Linked DNA regions of Homo sapiens: regions 2, 3, 4 and 5 are each reported to be linked to region 1. Evidence: microRNA targets listed by miRTarBase, many of them from high-throughput screens and not tested one by one. Region 1 holds a microRNA gene; each other region holds the end of a gene's coding sequence.

Region 1 (3,565 bases):
TTTCCCGCTGCAGGGCGTGCCGCCTCCTCTGTGGCCCCCACAGGCCCATGACACACACAAGTCTAGCTGCCAGACACCCGGTTAACCCCTGCACCCCAGTCCCCTAGACCCCTGCAGTCCAAGGGAAATGACCAGGGTGCCCTCAGGCTGAGGGGCAAGGAGTGTGGGGGCCCTGCCGAGGTGCCACAAAAAACCCCTCCCCGCCCACTAGGGTGCACAGAAGCCCCTGCCACCTCCTTCCCCTGTTGCTGGTCTCCTTTAAGAATGAGTCTATTTGGCTTTCACATCTGGATTCCAGAGGTGACCAGAGAGAATGGGGAGGGCTGGGGGTGGGCTTGTGGTAATGAACTCCAGCTGGCCAAGGAGTGGGGGAAGGGACCCTCTTCTTCCTGAGGGGGCTGTTGGAGGCTACAGCATCCTCAACGGGGGAGCGGGGCTCTGGGTGGGGCCTGTGATTTTGGCCTCCAAGCCCCCTCCCAGGTCCCTGTCTCCTCCAAGTTTGTCCTGGGCAGGGGCCCCAACTCTCCACCTTGGGAGGGGCCCTCTGTCGTCACTGGCGGGGGCGCCAAGCCATCTGGACCTCATTACCCCAACCCTGGCCTCCCCCACCATGGGGGCCCCTGGAAGGGATGGAGTGTGCAGTGGCATGGGGTGCGGGTGGGGGGTGGCTTCCTGCCGGTCTCTCTGCAGGCTCCCTAGATGCCCCCATGGGTTTGGGGTCTCCCATGTTGAGGTTCCTTACTCAGGGCCAGGGAGACCATGTGACCTGGGGCTGAGGGCCGGAGACCGGGTGACACTGTGGGGGAGGGGCACGTGCCACTGAGGGGGTCCCCTGATCTCATGCCTGAGCCTGCAGGCCTTTCTGGAGCTTTTGTGTACATCTGAGTTAAGTCGTGTGCGAAAACAGCTCTGAGAATCATATGTGGGGAGATGGGAGTCAGCTGTGGGCTGTGGGTGCTGGGAGGCGGGGTGTGTTTGTGTGTGTGTGTGTGTGTGTGTGTGTGGCTTGTGGGTCTGGTGTGTGGGTGTTTTTTAGGAGTGTGATTGGAGTATAAGCATCTAGGTGTGTTTGGAATATGTGGTCTGCATTTGCATCTGGGGGTGAAATCTGTGTGCCTGGGGAGTGACTCTGGGCACCTGCCTGTGCTTGGGGTGTAAAAGCAGGTGTGTGTGGGGAGGGGGCTCTAGGAGGGAGGGTGTGAGTATGGGGTGTTTGAGAATCTGTGTATGTCTTTGGGATGTGAGGATGGGGGGAGTGTTCCAGTTGTGAGGGTGTGTATGGGTGTGTGTGCATGCACTTGTGTGTGTCCGTGTGGGACATGGGTGTGAGATTGAAAGTGTGGGGGTGCTCATGTGTGTGAGTTCTGGGGCTGTGAGTGTCAAGGTGCGTGTGTGTTGAATGTGAGTGGATTCTTGCACTAGGACCACTGGGGATGTGGAGGTGGTCCAGGCTGGTGGGAGAGTGGTCTGTACTTCTCTACTCAACCACCAGCCCTCAGGTTTTGGGGTGAGGGAGGCTCTTTGGGCAGACCGGCGGCTGCCCACATCCCCAGTCCCCATTGACCCCCCCATCCTCTCAGTCTTCCTCGGCCACCCTTCCCCCATCACCGCTACCCCCAACCAGTCCCACACAGGGTGGCACCCCCATCCATCTGTGCCTCCTCCCAGCCCGCCCTGTGCCCCAACCCCCTGGCTCCAGGCTCCGGTTCTGGGATGGCAGGCAGGGGTCGGTCCAGCTCTCCAGTGGCGGCGGTGCCGAGGGTCTAACCCAGCCCAGCCTAACCAATGTGCAGACTACTGTACAATTTGGGAGTCCTGAACAGATAGTCTAAACACTGGGTAGACGGAGTGGAGGTGTCCTCTGGTCCATCCAGGCAGCAGTGTCTGTCCATCCGGTGGGCGCTTCAGCCCCATCCCCTGGAGATCCGAGAACCCCCCAACCCCAGCCTGTGTCCCCCTAGCCCCAGACCAGCCAGCCCGTGGTCCCCTCTCTGCTCCCAACTCCCCTTCTGCCTCCTTTGACGTGGCAGGGGTGAGCGGGAGCTGGGGCTGAGAAGGAGGGGCCTGAGGAGGGGGCCGGCCGGCAGGAAGGGAGGGGTGGGGGGAGGAGGCCGCTCCTACCTAGTGTCCAACCCCGAAGCACAGGGCGGGTGGTGGCGGGGCCTCTCTCGAACGGTTCCAGATGTTCCCTGGCCGTGTGTGCAACTTCCTCCTCTCCTCCCCCAGCCGCCCTCTGGGGCTCCCGGCCACCCGCCTGGCATAAAGAGGGCTTTATGTGGCTGCATGGGCCAGGGGGGCGTTGGGGGCAGAGAGGGGTGGGCGGGATGACGCCAGGACGGGGGAGCAAGGTCCCCCTAAACCCAGCCCCCCACCTGAGATCCTAGGCAAGGCTCATGCCCAACCTCTTTGAGTCCCCGAGGCCCACACAGACGACCCCCGTGAACAAGTAGGGCATGGGTGACAAAAACCCCTCCCCTCTCCCAGAGCCCCATCCTGGGGTACCTCCTCCCTAGATCCCTGAACCCCTCCCCTGGGACACAGCAGCCTACATACACATGTGCCCACACCGAGCACACACATGGGCCTAGCACCCCACACGCCTGTGCACAGATACACATAACTCCTCCCAGACAGCTCTAGATAAATCAAACACACAGCCCATTGTACCACGGTGTGCAGGTAAGATGTGTACCCCAGTATAAGTCCACAGGCATGGCTCTGCAAACATGTAGGCTCGCACAATTGCCACACACATCCACAAAGTGTGCACACATCCACACTGAGATGCAGACACGCTGACACCGACACATGGTTCATGCTGGGCACCTCCCCAGATACACATGTGCACACACACACAATAGCTGATAGGATATGTACTTGGGCTTGCATGTGTTGGCACAAACACACAACTACACACATGTTGCACACACAGGCACACCATCTCCAGGCTTGTGCTGGCTGCCTTATTGCTAACACATGGGGAGCTCGGGGGAGTGGGCTGAGCCGGCCCTTTGAAGCCGCCGGGTCTGGTGGCCCCCCTTCCTGGTCTCTGCAGTCAGGAAATGAAGTCAGAGGCGGCCAGGCCGGGGGTGAGAGAGGCCTGAGTGTGCGGTCCCTGCCTGAGGCTGGCCTGGCTTGTATCCAGGACTTGCCTGGGGAGGGATTTTGGGAGCCACTCTCAGCCTCCCCACCCCTCACCAGCCCCCTGGCCCCCGGCATATATGCAGAGCTGGTAGGACTGGCTCTGCGGGGGTCGGCGGTGCCCAGGAGGCCTACGGTCCGTGGCCAGGCTTTTATCTAGCTGCACCTTCGCAGTGGGAGGGGGCTGATGCTTAGAAGCCCTGGGCCAGTCAGGGGGACTCTTAGAGAGTGAGGTGTGGCAGAGAACAGTGCCAACCTCACCCCATTGCTCCTACCTGCACCCACAGGAGAAAGAGAAGAAATACATGCTGTCTGTGGACAACCTCAAGCTGCGGGACGTGGAGAAGGGCTTTATGTCGAGCAAGCATATCTTTGCCCTCTTTAACACGGAGCAGAGGTGCCTGCCTGCCCCTGGCTGTGGCTG
Region 2 (3,565 bases), not on the chromosome of region 1:
ATGTGATGGGAAAATTACACAGAATATATGTTCATTTCTTATAAAGTTAAGTCTTCCAGAACCTGGTTTAACAAAAAACTGAGGTTAAATTCAGGTCTCAAATATAGAAACTTAAACTTTTCTTGAAATCCAATTAAAAATGTAGATCTAGGCTGGGCGAGGTGGCTCACGCCTGTAATCCCAGCACTTTGGGAGGCTGAGGTGGGCAAGGTCAGGAGATTGAGACCATCCTGGCTAACACGGTGAAACCCTGTCTCTACTAAAAAATACAAAAAATTAGCCCAGCTACTCGGGAGGCAGAGGAAGGCGAATGGCATGAACCCAGGAGGCGGAGCTTGCAGTGAGCCTAGATGGCGCCACTGCACTCCAGCCTGGGTGACAGAGCGAGACTCCGTCTCAAAAAAAAAAAAAAAAAAAAAAAGTAGATCTAAATAGAGTCAGTCTTTTAAGAAAAAAATCACACATTTTAGCCTCAGTCAGATTTCACTTTATTTGTATCGATGACAATATTAACTCTTCAGATTTATAAAATGACAAAACTTGATAATTACCTGGAAACAATTTATTATTAACTAGGTTAACCCTAAATCCATCAAGAAAAACCACCTAACATATTCAGTGTTAAAAAGAGACATTACGACTAGCCTGGCCAATATGGCAAAACCCTGTCTCTACTAAAAATACAAATTTTAGCAGGGTATAGTGGTACGTGCCTGTAAGTCCCAGCTACTCAGGAGGCTAAGGCACCAGAATCGCTTGAATCTGGGAGGCAGAGGTTGCAGTGAGCAGAGATCGTGCCACTGCACTCCTGGGCAACACAGCGAGACTGTCTCAAAAAAAAAAAAAAAAAAGAGAGAGACAACAATGAGACAGATTGGCACATGTATGCCCTGAGAAATAAATCAACAGCTCCCACTAAAATTCTCAATACGCTAGACAGATTTAAAAGTACAATCTGGTACTTTCTCTTTTTTGAGATGGAGTCTCACCCTGTCGGCCAGGCTGGAGTGCAATGCACGATCTGGCTCACTGCAACCTCTGCCTCCCCGGTTCAAGCGATTCCCCCGCCTCAGCCTCCCGAGTAGCTGGGATCACAGGCATGCAACACCACGCTCGGCTAGTTTTTTATATCTTTAGTAGAGATGGGGGTTTCACCATGTTGGCCAGGCTGGTCTTGAACTCCTGACCTCATGATCCGCTAGCCTCCGCCTCCCAAAGTGCTGGGATTACAGGTGTGGGCCGCTACACCTGGCCCCAATCTGGTACTTTCAATGTTGCCTATAAACAGATTTCAGCTGAAGCTCAGATGGTAAGGTTAAGATGCCTGGGGACTGGGATGGATGGACGGGCAGGAGGGTTGGAAGAGAAGTAATCCAATTAGCATTGAAAATAAGAGCGCCAATTTGGAAAATCGAATGTCTATGATCATTTTCTTCCCTAAAACAGGGAAGAAAGTGAATGTGGAAAATCCGATTTTCAGCAATATTCGCAGGACCTAAGGCAACAACCACATGCCTGGGGCAACTATACTTTCCAAATCCTGAATATTAAAAAGGTTTTCACATGGTAATCATCTTAATATTTTCTGTTTTTTAGATGAAGTTTTGCTCTTGTTGCCCAGGCTGGAGTGCAATGGTGCAATCTTGGCTCACCTCAACCTCTGCCTCCCGGGTTCAAGCGATTCTCCTGCCTCGGCCTCCCGAGTAGCTGGGATTACAGGAATGTGCCATCACCCCTGGTTAATTTTGTATTTTTTTAGTAGAGATGGGGTTTTTCCATGTTGGTGAGGCTGGTCTCAAACTCCTGACCTCAGGTGATCCGCCTGCCTTGCCCTCCCAAAGTGCTGGGATTACAAGCATGAGTCACCGTGCCAGGCTAATTGTGTCCTTTTTAAAGGAACAAACAATTTGACTGTTGTGCAAATGAGGCTTACCTGGTCTGAATATGAAGCACCTGCCCTGGGCTGCTGTCTCAGGGCAGGAAAGTGGGGTGGTCAGAAAGGCAGCCAACACTGTTTCTGCTGCCACTGTCACTAAGCCTGGAGTGCCCGTTTTCAACTGCAGTGATCTGGTCCCTAACATTTAGCCTAAACAGTGAGCTGGTAAACAAAGCCCCTGCCAGCAGAGAAAAGGGGCTCTAGAGCTGTTGAAGGATTGGCCAGGCCGGTTCTTTTCTTATCTCTGTTGTTCTCGAGGAAATTCCTCTAAGGTGAGCCAAGGTCAGTGGCTCATTTTAACTTAGAGTAACTCTCTGGGGACTCTAACCAGACTTCCAACAGTGCTCTGGGCCCCTTAGTAAGTTCCCAGGGAAGCAGATGAAACTAATTAGGACATGGCCCACCAAAGGCGACACAAGCATTTTCCCCGCTGTGCACAGAGACCTCCCCACAACTGGGGCAAAGGCCGTGGAGGAAATCTTTCAAGCACAGAGGGGTCCGCGGTCACTGTCCCCACCTTCAGCTCTCTGCCCTGACAACCTCAGCCTGTTTTCACCATGTTTCTTCTCCCCAAGGCACAAATATTTCTTTTTAACTTATTTTTGTGATGTACCCAACTAACCACAAAGCCAGGCCTGCTGGGATGAGGATAAAAATCAAATAAACAATCCTCTCAACGTCCAGGAAATGGCTGCCAGGCCTTCTGACTTCATGAAACGCCGGGGCCAGCTGTGCTCTTCTATGCTGGGTCCTCTTCGTCCATTGCCACATTGCTGTTTGTATTCTTCTTCTGCTCAGCCTCTGGCTCTGCAGGCAGAATGCTGGTGACGGTGTGGAGAAGAGCTTCAATCTGCTCCTCCGTGAGCCGCTCTTCACTCTCTTCCACCATCTGCAGAAGGAAAGAAAATCCTCCAGGGTTACAAATGAAACTTACAGCCTTGGGCAGCCCTGCCCACTGTGCTCATGGTCTCAGCCCGGCCTCCTGGCACACAGACCTCACAGCCTGGGTCCTCGTGAGTCCTCTCCATCTTACAGACGGAAGGGTGGAGCCAAGTCACATCCTGGACTGAGCCAATGCGACTGATCAAAATGGGTCAGTAAAAACCAAGTTGTAGGATAGCATTTTTCTTTAAAGAAAAGGAAAACCCCCAGCCTGGGAAGCACAGAGGAACCCCATCTCTTAAAAACAAACAAAAAAAATCAACCAAGCATGGTGGTGTGTGCCAATAGTCCCAGCTACTTGGGGGGCTGAGGTGGGAGGATCACTTGAGCCCAGGAGGTCGAGCCAAGCACTCCAGCCTGGGTGACAGAGCAAGACTTTGTCTAAAAAAAAAAAAAAAAAAAGAAAAGAAAAAAAGGAAAAAGCTAAGTTATATAACCACACACACACACACACACACACACACACACACACACACACACAGAGAGAAGTGGTGAACAGGTTGCATATGCATCTCGAAGAAGTTAAATGGCACTTTATGTACTTTTATATTTCACAAGCACATCTGTAATTTTTTTTTTGGGGGGGCAGGACAGAGTCTTGCTCTGTCGCCAGGCTGGAGTGCAGTGGCACAATCTCGGCTCACTGCAACCTCCGCCTCTCAGGTTCAAGCAATTCTCCTGCCTCAG
Region 3 (3,565 bases), not on the chromosome of region 1:
GTTTATGTGTGTGCATACACACTGAGATCTAGTTTTGTCTTTTTCAGTCATACATCATTTTTCTACAAAACAAAGAAGAATCAGAGCAATAAAAGAAATGGCCAGGGTCTTAGTTCCCGGAGGCCAACTGATGATTTACGTTTGGGCAATGGAACAAAAGAACCGTCACTTTGAGAAGCAAGACGTGCTTGTTCCATGGAACAGGGCTCTGTGTTCCCAGCTCTTCTCAGAGTCCAGCCAGTCTGGGAGGAAGAGGCAGTGTGGATACCCAGAAAGAGGCCATCCCTACCATCCTCCTTGCTCTGAGTGTAGCTGTTCTGTTTGTTTTAAAGAGCAGTGTGGTTCAAAACGGTCCCACAGCGTGGGCTATGAACCTGCTATGGCAAGAACCTGTTTTGCAAATATTTCTAAGGAAGGCGAGGAAGAATATGGATTTTACAGCACATTAGGAAAATCGTTTCGTTCCTGGTTTTTCTCCAGATCTTTGGATGAATCGACTCTGAGGAAGCAAATTGAAAGAGTAAGACCCTTGAAAAACACAGAAGTTTGGGCCAGTAGCACTGTAACAGTCCAGCCTTCCAGACACTCTAGTTTAGACTTTGATCACCAAGAGCCATTTTCAACAAAAGGGCAAAGTTTAGATGAGGAAGTGTTTGTGGAATCTTCTTCTGGAAAACACTTGGAGTGGCTGAGAGCACCAGGCACTCTGAAACATTTAAATGGAGACCATCAAGGGGAAATGAGGAGAAATGGAGGGGGAAATTTTCTGGATAGCACTAATACTGGTGTGAATTGTGTGGATGCAGGCAACATAGAAGATGATAATCCTTCTGCTAGTAAAATATTGAGAAGGATTTCTGCAGTTGATTCCACAGATTTCAACCCAGATGATACAATGTCTGTCGAAGATCCACAGACTGATGTTTTGGACTCCACAGCCTTTATGCGCTACTACCATGTGTTTCGAGAAGGGGAGCTCTGCAGTCTGCTCAAGGAGAATGTGTCAGAGCTCCGTATCCTGAGTTCTGGGAATGATCATGGTAACTGGTGTATCATTGCAGAGAAAAAGAGAGGTTGTGATTGATTGGATCCTTTTAGACAACTCCTCCAAAAGATGAACCACATTCTTTCCTCTTGGTTTGATATGGTTACCTGAATTTGCATTCAGTGTTATTTGTTAATCCATTTACGCTTTGGTCTGCAGAGACTATTAATTATTTGGTTGTTTTGTTTTCATTTTTGAATAAGCACAGATTCTGGCATTGAAAGCACTTGACAAAGGGTATTTGTGCTTAAATGTTAATATACAAGATCTGAAGAAGCAACAGAAAGTACCCTTCAGTACACCTCAGACTTTTTTTTAACCCCAGAGAGATAAAATACATGTATAGTGTTTTTCAGTATTACACATTGATTTAAAAAGATTATGCTGTTAAATAATCTTTTAAAACGGTATTTTTATAAAGTGAGGGGATAATTTCTGGTTCTCAGGTTATAACTGAGAGCAGTGTGCAAGATAATAGGTAAATTTGATCCATTGCACAGATATACTTTGAACCATGTGATGAGTTATCTTGTTGCCAAGGCCTTGCTTCTACTTAAAGTTTTCAGAAAACTGAGTGACAGTGGAGAGAAACAAGAAGTTTTACAAGGACTTTACTAAATTATAAGCAAACTTGCTTCAAAATAAGTTGACATGTGATAATAAGGTTTTCAATGTAGCCCAGGAGGTTTTTAAAGGCACTGTTAGGCTGAGCATGGTGGCTCATGCCTGTAATCCCAGCACTTTGGGAGGCCAAGGCAGAAGGATCACTTGAACCCAGGAGTTCAAGAATAGCCTGGGCAACATAGCAAGACCCCATCTCTATAAAAATTAGCAAGATGTGGTGGTGCATGCCTGTCATCCAAGCTACTCAAGAGACTGAGGCAGGAGGATCACGTGAGCCCAGGAATTCAAGGCTGCAGTGAACTATGATTGCATCACTGCACTGCAGCCTGGGCAACATAGCAAGACTCTGTCTCAAAATAATAATAATAATAATAATAAAGGCGTTGTTAGCTTGTAAGGAGTGGAGTATGTAGGTAGTAGGAGTTATATGCAAGTACCCAAGTGGTATTCTTCCAATCTTATTAGAAGCATGAATATTCAAGATTGATATTACTATTGCTTATTAGCAAGATTGTTATCAATCATGCTTATTAGAAGGATGAATATCCAAGACCAAGATTGACTAATGATGAGTCTGCATCAAGAACTAGGCATTTCTTCTGAGTTGACGGACTCTTTAGGAAAGGAGAATCTAAGTGAAGCACTGATTTTAGCTCTGAGAACAAACAAATTAAGGTACAGCATAGTTAGCCTTGGTAGAGGTATGACTTGGATTTGCTGTATCCTTTAAAATAGTATCTGGGCATTTATTTTATTGAAGGTGACTACATTTTATTAGTTATATTAGGAATTTAGGTAGAATCAACTTCTACTGATTACAGGTTGAATTTCTGTCACTTTGTAGAGAAACGAATAGACTGGACACTGTGTGGTCACTGTTTAGATTTGCCCATGGGTCTCTTTAAATCTATGTCATGGATCCTGAGACACAAATATAATTAAGACAGGTCTAGAGACAGGAGAAGCAGAAATAAGTTGACCCAGGAGTACAGTCTCAAGTAGTTCATTAATGAGAAAATTGACATCTGACAAGAGTCTTTTTACTTTATGCTGGATGAAAATCCAAATCTTGTTTTATTTTTTCCACTAAAAGTGACTAAAATAATAACGAATTTCATTTGTTCTTGGGTTCTTTTTTCCTTTAATGATTGTGCTATAACTTAAAATAATGATGTTACTTTTGAACAAACTTAAAGAAATATTTTTAAAGCGTATCTGAAAACGATTGATGTTTATAACTCTCTTTTGGCTTCAAAATAAGATTGTGTTATCACCATTTTGGTAGATGAGGTTGTCTGGTGAAAATGATGCATATGAGTTGTACTGTTCAGTGTACATCCTGCAGTAGTGGATGATTGAAAACATATATAAGTGGAGTATAAATTAAAAATTAATTTGGTTTCTTCTATTTCTTTTTTTTTTTTTTTTTTTTGAGACAGAGTCTCGCTCTGTCGCCCAGGCTGGAGTGCACTGGCGCGATCTCGGCTCACTGTAAGCTCCGCCTCCCGGGTTCACGCCATCCTCCTGCCTCAGCCTCCCAAGTAGCTGGGACTACTGGCACCCACCACGACGCCCGGCTGTTTTTTTGTATTTTTAGGAGAGACGGGGTTTCACCGTGTTAGCCAGGATGGTCTCGATCTCCTGACGTCGTGATCCACCCGCCTCGGCCCCCCACAGTGCTGGGATTACAGGCGTGAGCCACCGCGCCCGGCCTGTTCCTTTTATTTCTTAATTCAGGACACTAAACCATGACTGCAAGGGATTTCCTTGGTAAAAAGAAAAGATTCTCAGAGTCAAAATGGTCTTACAACTCGGGCTTGACGGCCTTTGAATTATGAATGGATTGTTCCTCTCTCTGAAGCCTATTGTCACATGGGTTTTTAATCCTGGCCTTGC
Region 4 (3,565 bases), not on the chromosome of region 1:
TCCTTTCCCGGGCCAAAGCCTTTCGCGTGCTCCGACTGCGGCTTGAGCTTCGGCTGGAAAAAGAACCTCGCCACGCACCAGTGTCTGCACCGCAGCGAGGGTCGCCCCTTTGGGTGCGATGAGTGCGCACTGGGCGCCACCGTGGATGCCCCCGCCGCCAAGCCCCTGGCCAGCGCGCCTGGCGGACCGGGCTGCGGCCCAGGATCCGATCCCGTGGTGCCCCAGCGCGCCCCCTCGGGCGAGCGGTCCTTCTTCTGCCCGGACTGCGGGCGCGGCTTCTCCCATGGGCAGCACCTGGCGCGGCACCCGCGCGTGCACACGGGCGAACGGCCCTTCGCCTGCACGCAGTGTGACCGCCGCTTCGGCTCGCGGCCTAATCTGGTCGCCCACTCCAGGGCCCACAGCGGCGCCAGGCCTTTCGCCTGCGCTCAGTGCGGCCGCCGCTTCAGCCGCAAGTCGCACCTGGGCCGCCACCAGGCGGTGCACACTGGCAGCCGCCCCCACGCCTGCGCCGTCTGCGCCCGCAGCTTCAGCTCCAAAACCAACCTAGTCCGCCACCAGGCGATCCACACAGGCTCCCGCCCCTTCTCCTGCCCGCAGTGCGGAAAGAGCTTCAGCCGCAAGACCCACCTGGTGCGGCACCAGCTCATTCACGGCGAAGCCGCCCACGCGGCCCCGGACGCCGCCCTTGCGGCCCCAGCCTGGTCCGCTCCCCCCGAGGTGGCGCCGCCCCCGCTCTTCTTCTGAGCCTAGTTCTCACGAGGACCCTTTCTTGCCCACAGTTTCGAGAGGCCCGTGCCATGAGACCGCCTGGGGTGAGCAAGGCGACCTGGGCTGCTGCCCGAAGGTTTGGCCGCCGCGGGACACCTGTTTCCTTCCCGCAGTGTCTGCGTCCGCACAGCATACCCAGCTCGGACCTCCTAGGACAGAGACTCAGCGAACCCTTGCTGGGAACCGCTGAGCTGAAGTTCTTGGAAGGCTCCCACCCAGGTGCCCCGTTGGAAAGCAGATATTTCCCGGACCCAGCGCGGCCTCAACCAGGGCAGGAAAGAGTGGTTATTTATGTACTTAAAGTTTCATTAAAGTTAAAATCGGAAAGTTCTGGGGCTGCTAAATGAATTGGGGGAGGGAACACCTGACTCTCCTTAGCCACTGTCCCACCTCCATCCACACACAGACCACCCCCCTCCACTTCCCCTTCTGTCCTGGGTGAGTTACATTTAGCCAGCTGCTGTTAATTGGTTCTCCCAAATAAAAATGTAATATATTTATTCACTAAGCCACCATCCTGGCTCCTGCTTCTAGCTCGGAAGTATAAGGAAGGAAGATTGGGGTGCATTTCTCTCACGCCACGTGTCACCGACTAGAGCTGAAGGGGGGCAGGCCGTCCTTTGGCGTGGGCTTGGGAGCTCTGTGTGGTCTCCGCAACTCTCCTGGGGGATTCGGAGCTCGGTGGCGTGAGGAAGGAGGTGGCACATCCACTGCAGATGAAGGTTGCTTTCACATCGCACTTGCAACAAGTCCTTTCTTAAGGCTGCTGGGTCCAGAAGTCTCTGTATTGCCCTTCTCCAGCCCACGCAGGTATGAGAGCTAGGGCTGCCTGGCCGTGAACGGGGAGGGTAGGACGATGGGGAGCCTATGGAGCTTGCAGTGAGTAGTCTTGGGTTTGACCCCCCTCTGCCTCTCGTGGGACTTGGAGCGCAGCATTATTCATTTCCCAGTGAGCGGGGATGAGAGGCCAGAGCAGTGGCCTGAGAGATGAAGGGGTCTTTCACACCTGTGAAGCAGTTTAGACCGTGTCCAAGGGAGGGGGAACCATGGCAAGGTTAGGCGGGGCAGGAACAGGGCCACGCTCACATTCCTGAAGTTTGGAAAGATGTTTGGCTAGACAACTCGGGAGCGAAATTGGAGGCCTGCGCATCAGTTGTCCTGGTGACAGGTTGTGGTGACCTGGGACCATAGTTGTGTCAGAGGAGACAGAGAAGTGATGGATTCAAGAGACACTTAATAGGCAGAGGATACAGGACCTGTTGACTAGTGTGGGTCGGGGAATCAATGAGCTCAGCCCGATTTCTGTTTGACACTGACTGGATGACAGTGGCATACTCCCAGAAGGGAGACTCGGTGTTGGGGGCAGCTTTGTGCTGGGGGAGTAGTCCTGGGTCTCCTGAGTTGTGAGCAGTGTGTGCCCAGCAGGAAGGAGGCTGTGTGGGTGGAGAGCTCAGGAGAGGGCCAGGCTGCAGACATACAGCTGAGAACTATCCGCATGTGCTTCTGAAGCTATGGGGGAGCGGATGATCTTCCCAAAGAACTGAGTGTGGAGTGAGAAATTGGGGGCCTGGGACAGAAGCCTCTGGGACACCAACATTAGGGGATGGCACCGAGAGAGGCCTGTAAACAAGATTGGAGAGTGCAGGTGCAAGGACTGGACAGGAAAGCCCCAGGTAGAGGTGATAGAGGAGCCGAGGAAAGACGCGCTTCAGGGAGGAGGAGGCCGCTGGAGGCTAGAGAGAGGTCACCTAGGCGAAGGGCTTCCAAACCCTTTGGATGTCGCTGCAAGCAAATCCAGTCTCGGTGACAGCAGCATCAGGAGCAGCTGGGTCAGAATTCAGATCACAATGGTGAACTACAAAAGCAAAATCCCAGAGAAGGTAGGAGACAATGAGACCTGGACACAGGTGAGGGAGGGGCGTTGGCTGGGAGGCCTGTCAGAGGATGCATGAATGCAGGCGTGTTTATAAGTTTCGTGGCCAAGAATGAGTTGGTGACTCCAGGTTATTTTAAATATCTTGAAATGTCACATAAAAATCTGGACTTCCATCTTCTGTTGTGAAAAAAGCAAAAGGTTTGGCAACTGGTGGCTGGAGCTGAGTGGAAGTTGTCCTCTTTGGACTAAGGGATCGGAGTCCTCAGCACTCCCCCTCGTCTTAAAGCCCAACTGGGCTTCTCCAAGGTTCCCTACCCAGCCTCTTAGGCACAGAGCTTGTGATTCCAGCTAAAAAAAAAGTCATTTCACAGACTTTTAAAATCAAACACATAAAAACAATGTTTGTGTTGGTTAGACCAATGTTTTCCTTTCTTGAAACATTCTGGAATTCTCGTGTAAGAACAGCTTTTAGATCTTACAGCATATTTGGTGAGGCCTACCATGTGCCAGACGTTTTCAGGATTTCACATTATTTTAAAGATTCTCTACAAGGCATGCATATCTTTGTCCTTATTTTTTAGCTTGTTTGCAAATAGTCAAAATTTGTTTAGCATCCAGTCTGGCAATAGCCAACTCAGAAGACGTCTGCTCAACAAATGCACCGTGTGATGGAAGACTGAGGTTTCTGAAGGCTCTTCCCAAGGAAGAGTTCTAGACTCAGAAAGTGGTGGCCTCACTAAAATCAATACCTACCATCACCACCCCTATGTCACCCCAGGTCTGAGCCACCCCAGGTACAACTACCTTGATAAGGCACCAAATTGTTGACTTTAGAACCACATCCTGGTGTGTGAAAATGCTCAGAGAAGTAAAGCACTCATTTCCTAGTTCTATATCTAAAAGAGAAAGGTTTTATTA
Region 5 (3,565 bases), not on the chromosome of region 1:
ATTACAGGCGTGGCCCACTACACATGGCCAATTTCATGCTTTTTAATGGCTGCTTCTCAGTTCCCAGTTTTCCCCAACATCTGCTCTGTAGTCTTTAACCCTGATCCTTGTGCTAGAAGGACAGATGTTTGTCTAGGACCTGATCTCTGCCCTCATGATTTGGTTTCATGTGATCGTTATCCACACACCTTATGTATGTATATACATTCCTACCCTCCCCCTCAGCACGTCATTTCCCCTGTCACAGTTGCCTGTGTCCCTGGAGTGTTACACAGTGCCTCCTGAAGACAACCTGGCCCTCCTTCAGCTCTACTTCCGGACCCTGGTTACTGGTGCGCTCCGCCCACGTTGGTGCCCCGTGCTCTATGCTGTGGCTGTGGCTCATGTCAATAGCTTCATCTTCTCTCAGGACCCACAGAGCTCAGTAAGTTACATCTCCATCTTCAGAGGAAGGAAGGGAGCTAGCAATTGAGCTGCCTCTGGGCCAGCTGGGGAAGAGGTAAGTGTCAAGCAAGGCCAGTGGTGGGTACCAGCCCTCGGCTCAGTGCCACCTCTCCCTGTTCTGCTTCTAGGATGAGGTCAAAGCTGCCCGCAGGAGTATGCTGCAGAAAACATGGCTGCTGGCAGATGAGGTAGGGTCAGGGCCATTAGGAGGGTGGGATATTAGAGGATCTTGGGGGACAGAGACCACAACAGGATCTCATTACCCACTTCATAAGTTTTCTTTCCTTTCTGCAGGGTCTCCGGCAGCACCTCCTGCACTATAAGCTTCCCAATTCCACGCTCCCAGAGGGCTTTGAGCTCTATTCTCAGTTGCCCCCTCTGCGTCAGCACTACCTCCAGAGACTGACTTCAACAGTGCTCCAAAATGGGGTATCAGAGACCTAGGATAGTTGATATAGATGGAAAGATGGGTACGTTGTCCTGTATCCAGCCTTTCAACAGATGTCTGGCCAGACGAAGAACATTGTGTCCTAATGGTAGGCAGGAGACCAAGGAGCAGAAGGCTTGCCTTCCTGGGAGCAGGTTGTTTGAGCTGTTTTAGAGCAGTGAGCCCTACCATTACATCCTGATATCTGGGGCTTCTGAAGGTCTGTACTGGGAGTGAAGAGTGGCTTAGCTATTTACCCGCTCTTTGGGGACAGGGCAAACTAAATGCATCCCTTCTTACCTAACTCCCAACCCCTGCCCTGGGCTGAGGCATATGAATGCTATAGTTGTGCATTAAAATAAATGTTTTTTATCTCCTGGAAATTTGATCTGGACTGATTTCAGCCATGTTAGTTCAGGGTTAGTATCTGGGGGTGGGTTATCCCAGGTGAGGAGCAGGACTGCTGTGAGAGAGATGGGGAAGAATCATAAGTGGGAGGTAAAAACTTTGTCCACATCTGGAGACAACAAGAATGTGGGGCCTGCCAGGCACAGTGGTACACACCTGTAGTCCCAACTACTTGGGAGGCTGAGGCAGGATGATCACTTGATTCCAGGAATTCAATTCCAGCCTAGCCAACATAGTGAGACCCCATGTCTGTCTGTCTGTCGGTCGGTCGGTCTGTCTATCTATCTATCTATCTATCTATCTATCTATCTATCTATCTATTTCTGAGACAGGGTCTTGCTCTGTTGCCCAGGCTGGAGTGCAGTGGCGTGATCATAGCTCACTGCAGCCTCGACCTCCTGGGCTCAAGCCATTCTCCCACCTCAGCCTCCTGAGTGGCTGGGACCACAGGCAAGTGCCACCACGCCTGGCTAATTTTTTGTATTTGTAGAGACGGAGTTTCACCATGTTGCCCAGGTTGGTCTTGAATTCCTGAGCTCAAGCAATCCACCCACCTCAGACTCCCAAAGTGCTAAGATTACAGGCATGAGCCGCTACACTTGGCCTATTTTGGTAGTTTCTACATTGTTCTTTGGTCTGAATTCTAAACTTTAGGCTTTCTTAGACTGTCTTTTGCTGTGTGGATTACTTATTGTGTTTGCAAGTAACCAGAGTCAGAGCAGTGTGCCAAGGCCTAGCCCTGTCAGTAGGTAGAGAGAACCCAGTCTTCATAAATGGAGCTGCTGAACACAGAATTATCCAATAGGTTTTTTTGGGTTTTTTTTTTTTTTTTTTTGACACGAAGTCTTGCTCTGTTGCCCAGGCTGGAGTGCAGTGGGGCAATCTCAGCTCACCACAACCTCCCCCTCCCTAGTTCAAGCCATTCTCCTGCCTCAGCCTCCCAAGTAGCTGGGATTACAGGCGCGTGCCACCACGCCTGGCTAATTTTTGTATTTTTAGTAGAGATGGGGTTTTGCCATGTTGGCCAGGCTGGTCTTGAACTCGAACTCCTGACCTCATGATCCGCCCGCCTCAGCCTTCAAAAGTGCTGGTATTACAGGCATGAGCCACTGGGCCCAGCCTTTTTTTCTTTTTTTTTTTTGAGACAGAGTCTTACTCTGTAGCCCAAGCCAGAGTGTAGTGGCATGATCTTGGCTCACTGCAACCTCCGTTTCTGAGGCTCAAGTGATTCTCATGCCTCAGCCTCCCGAGTAGCAGGGGCTACAGGCATGCACCACCACACCGGGCTAGTTTTTTGTATTTTTATTAGAAGCGGTGTTTTGCCATGTTGCCCAGGGTGGTCTCAGACTCCTAAGCTCAGGCAATCCGCCCACCTCAGCCTCCTAAAGTGCTGGGATTATAAGTGTGAGCCACAGCATGTGGCCCCAATAGGTTTTATTAAGCAACTACTGTATCAGCAAATACCAATGATTCTCAAACTTTGTGACAAAAATCATCTGGAGGATATTTTAAAACAGATCACTGGGTCCTACCACCAGAAGCTGCTGATTCAGTACATCTGGGGTGAAACCCAAGAATCTGCATTTCTAACAAGTTCCCAGGTAATACTGATGCTGATGTTCAGAACAAACCACACAACCACAATTTGAAGAGCAGTGGCTTAAAGAGACTTTGCAAGGTAAATTCTGTGATCTCATAGTGTGATATCTAGTGTTAAGTAGGGCATAGAGACCAGGGTTTTTTTGTTTTTTGTTTTTTTTGAGATGGAGTCTCACTCTGTCACCCAGGCTGGAGTGTAGTGGTGCAATCTCGGCTCACTGCAACCTCTGCCTTCCAGGTTCAAGCAATTCTCTGCCTCAGCCTCCCAAGTAGCTGGGATTACAGGCACCTGCCACCACGCACGGCTAATTTTTGTATTTTTAGTAGAGACGGGGTTTCACCATCTTAGCCAGGCTGGTCTTGAACTCCTGACCTTGTGATCCACCCCACCCCCACCGTCCCCTTGGCCTCCCAAAGTGCTGGGATTACAGGTGTAAGCCACCACGCCTGGCTGAGACCAGACTTTTTACAAAATCACTGTTCTGTTTACACCTTGAATTATACTCAGACTTTACCAAGTAGCTAACTACTATAACTTCTCTTTTGAAGTATTTTGTATTAAACATAGGTCTCAGACTTTCAAGTTAGGATTTTTTTTTTTTTTTTTTTTTTGAGATGGGGCTTTGCTCTTGTTGCCCAGGCTGGAGTGCAATGGTGCGATCTCGTCTCTGCAACCTCTGCCTCCCA

Evidence for each region. Region 1 holds the annotated microRNA hsa-miR-3154 (CAGAAGGGGAGUUGGGAGCAGA, at 1,991-2,012, opposite strand). A microRNA usually pairs through its seed, bases 2 to 8, with sites in the 3' UTR of a target mRNA and lowers its output. Matches are read on the target gene's strand: a 7mer-m8 pairs with bases 2 to 8, a 7mer-A1 pairs with bases 2 to 7 and ends in A, and an 8mer does both.
Region 2: the mRNA of CRCP is a reported target of hsa-miR-3154. The part of its 3' UTR that is shown has no 7-base or 8-base seed match.
Region 3: the mRNA of TRMT9B is a reported target of hsa-miR-3154. The part of its 3' UTR that is shown has no 7-base or 8-base seed match.
Region 4: miRTarBase lists ZNF467 as a target of hsa-miR-3154. Seed matches in the 3' UTR shown: 7mer-m8 at 1,196-1,202.
Region 5: the mRNA of RPAP1 is a reported target of hsa-miR-3154. Seed matches in the 3' UTR shown: 7mer-m8 at 1,162-1,168.

The regions. Positions count from the first base shown.
Region 1 is chr9:128,242,966-128,246,530 of GRCh38, forward strand. MIR3154 (microRNA 3154) reads right to left here and starts at 2,065; the gene lies at 1,982-2,065. DNM1 (dynamin 1) reads left to right here. Exons shown (of 22, transcript NM_004408.4): 16 at 3,429-3,538. MIR199B (microRNA 199b) reads right to left here and starts at 1,865; the gene lies at 1,756-1,865.
Region 2 is chr7:66,151,468-66,155,032 of GRCh38, reverse strand. CRCP (CGRP receptor component) reads right to left here. Exons shown (of 6, transcript NM_014478.5): 6 at 465-2,825. The coding sequence ends at 2,676. Among named protein-coding and RNA genes, the nearest start is that of CRCP, 38 kb to the right of the region's middle.
Region 3 is chr8:13,020,961-13,024,525 of GRCh38, forward strand. It overlaps TRMT9B (tRNA methyltransferase 9B (putative)), which reads left to right. Exons shown (of 5, transcript NM_020844.3): 5 at 48-3,565. The coding sequence ends at 1,084. All of the region lies in intron 3 of LOC124901889 (a long non-coding RNA gene), which reads right to left. Among named protein-coding and RNA genes, the nearest start is that of TRMT9B, 77 kb to the left of the region's middle.
Region 4 is chr7:149,761,896-149,765,460 of GRCh38, reverse strand. It overlaps ZNF467 (zinc finger protein 467), which reads left to right. Exons shown (of 5, transcript NM_207336.3): 5 at 1-1,279. The coding sequence ends at 747. Among named protein-coding and RNA genes, the nearest start is that of ZNF467, 9.9 kb to the left of the region's middle.
Region 5 is chr15:41,514,865-41,518,429 of GRCh38, reverse strand. RPAP1 (RNA polymerase II associated protein 1) reads left to right here. Exons shown (of 25, transcript NM_015540.4): 23 at 248-424; 24 at 573-632; 25 at 739-1,254. The coding sequence ends at 888. Among named protein-coding and RNA genes, the nearest start is that of LTK, 2.8 kb to the right of the region's middle.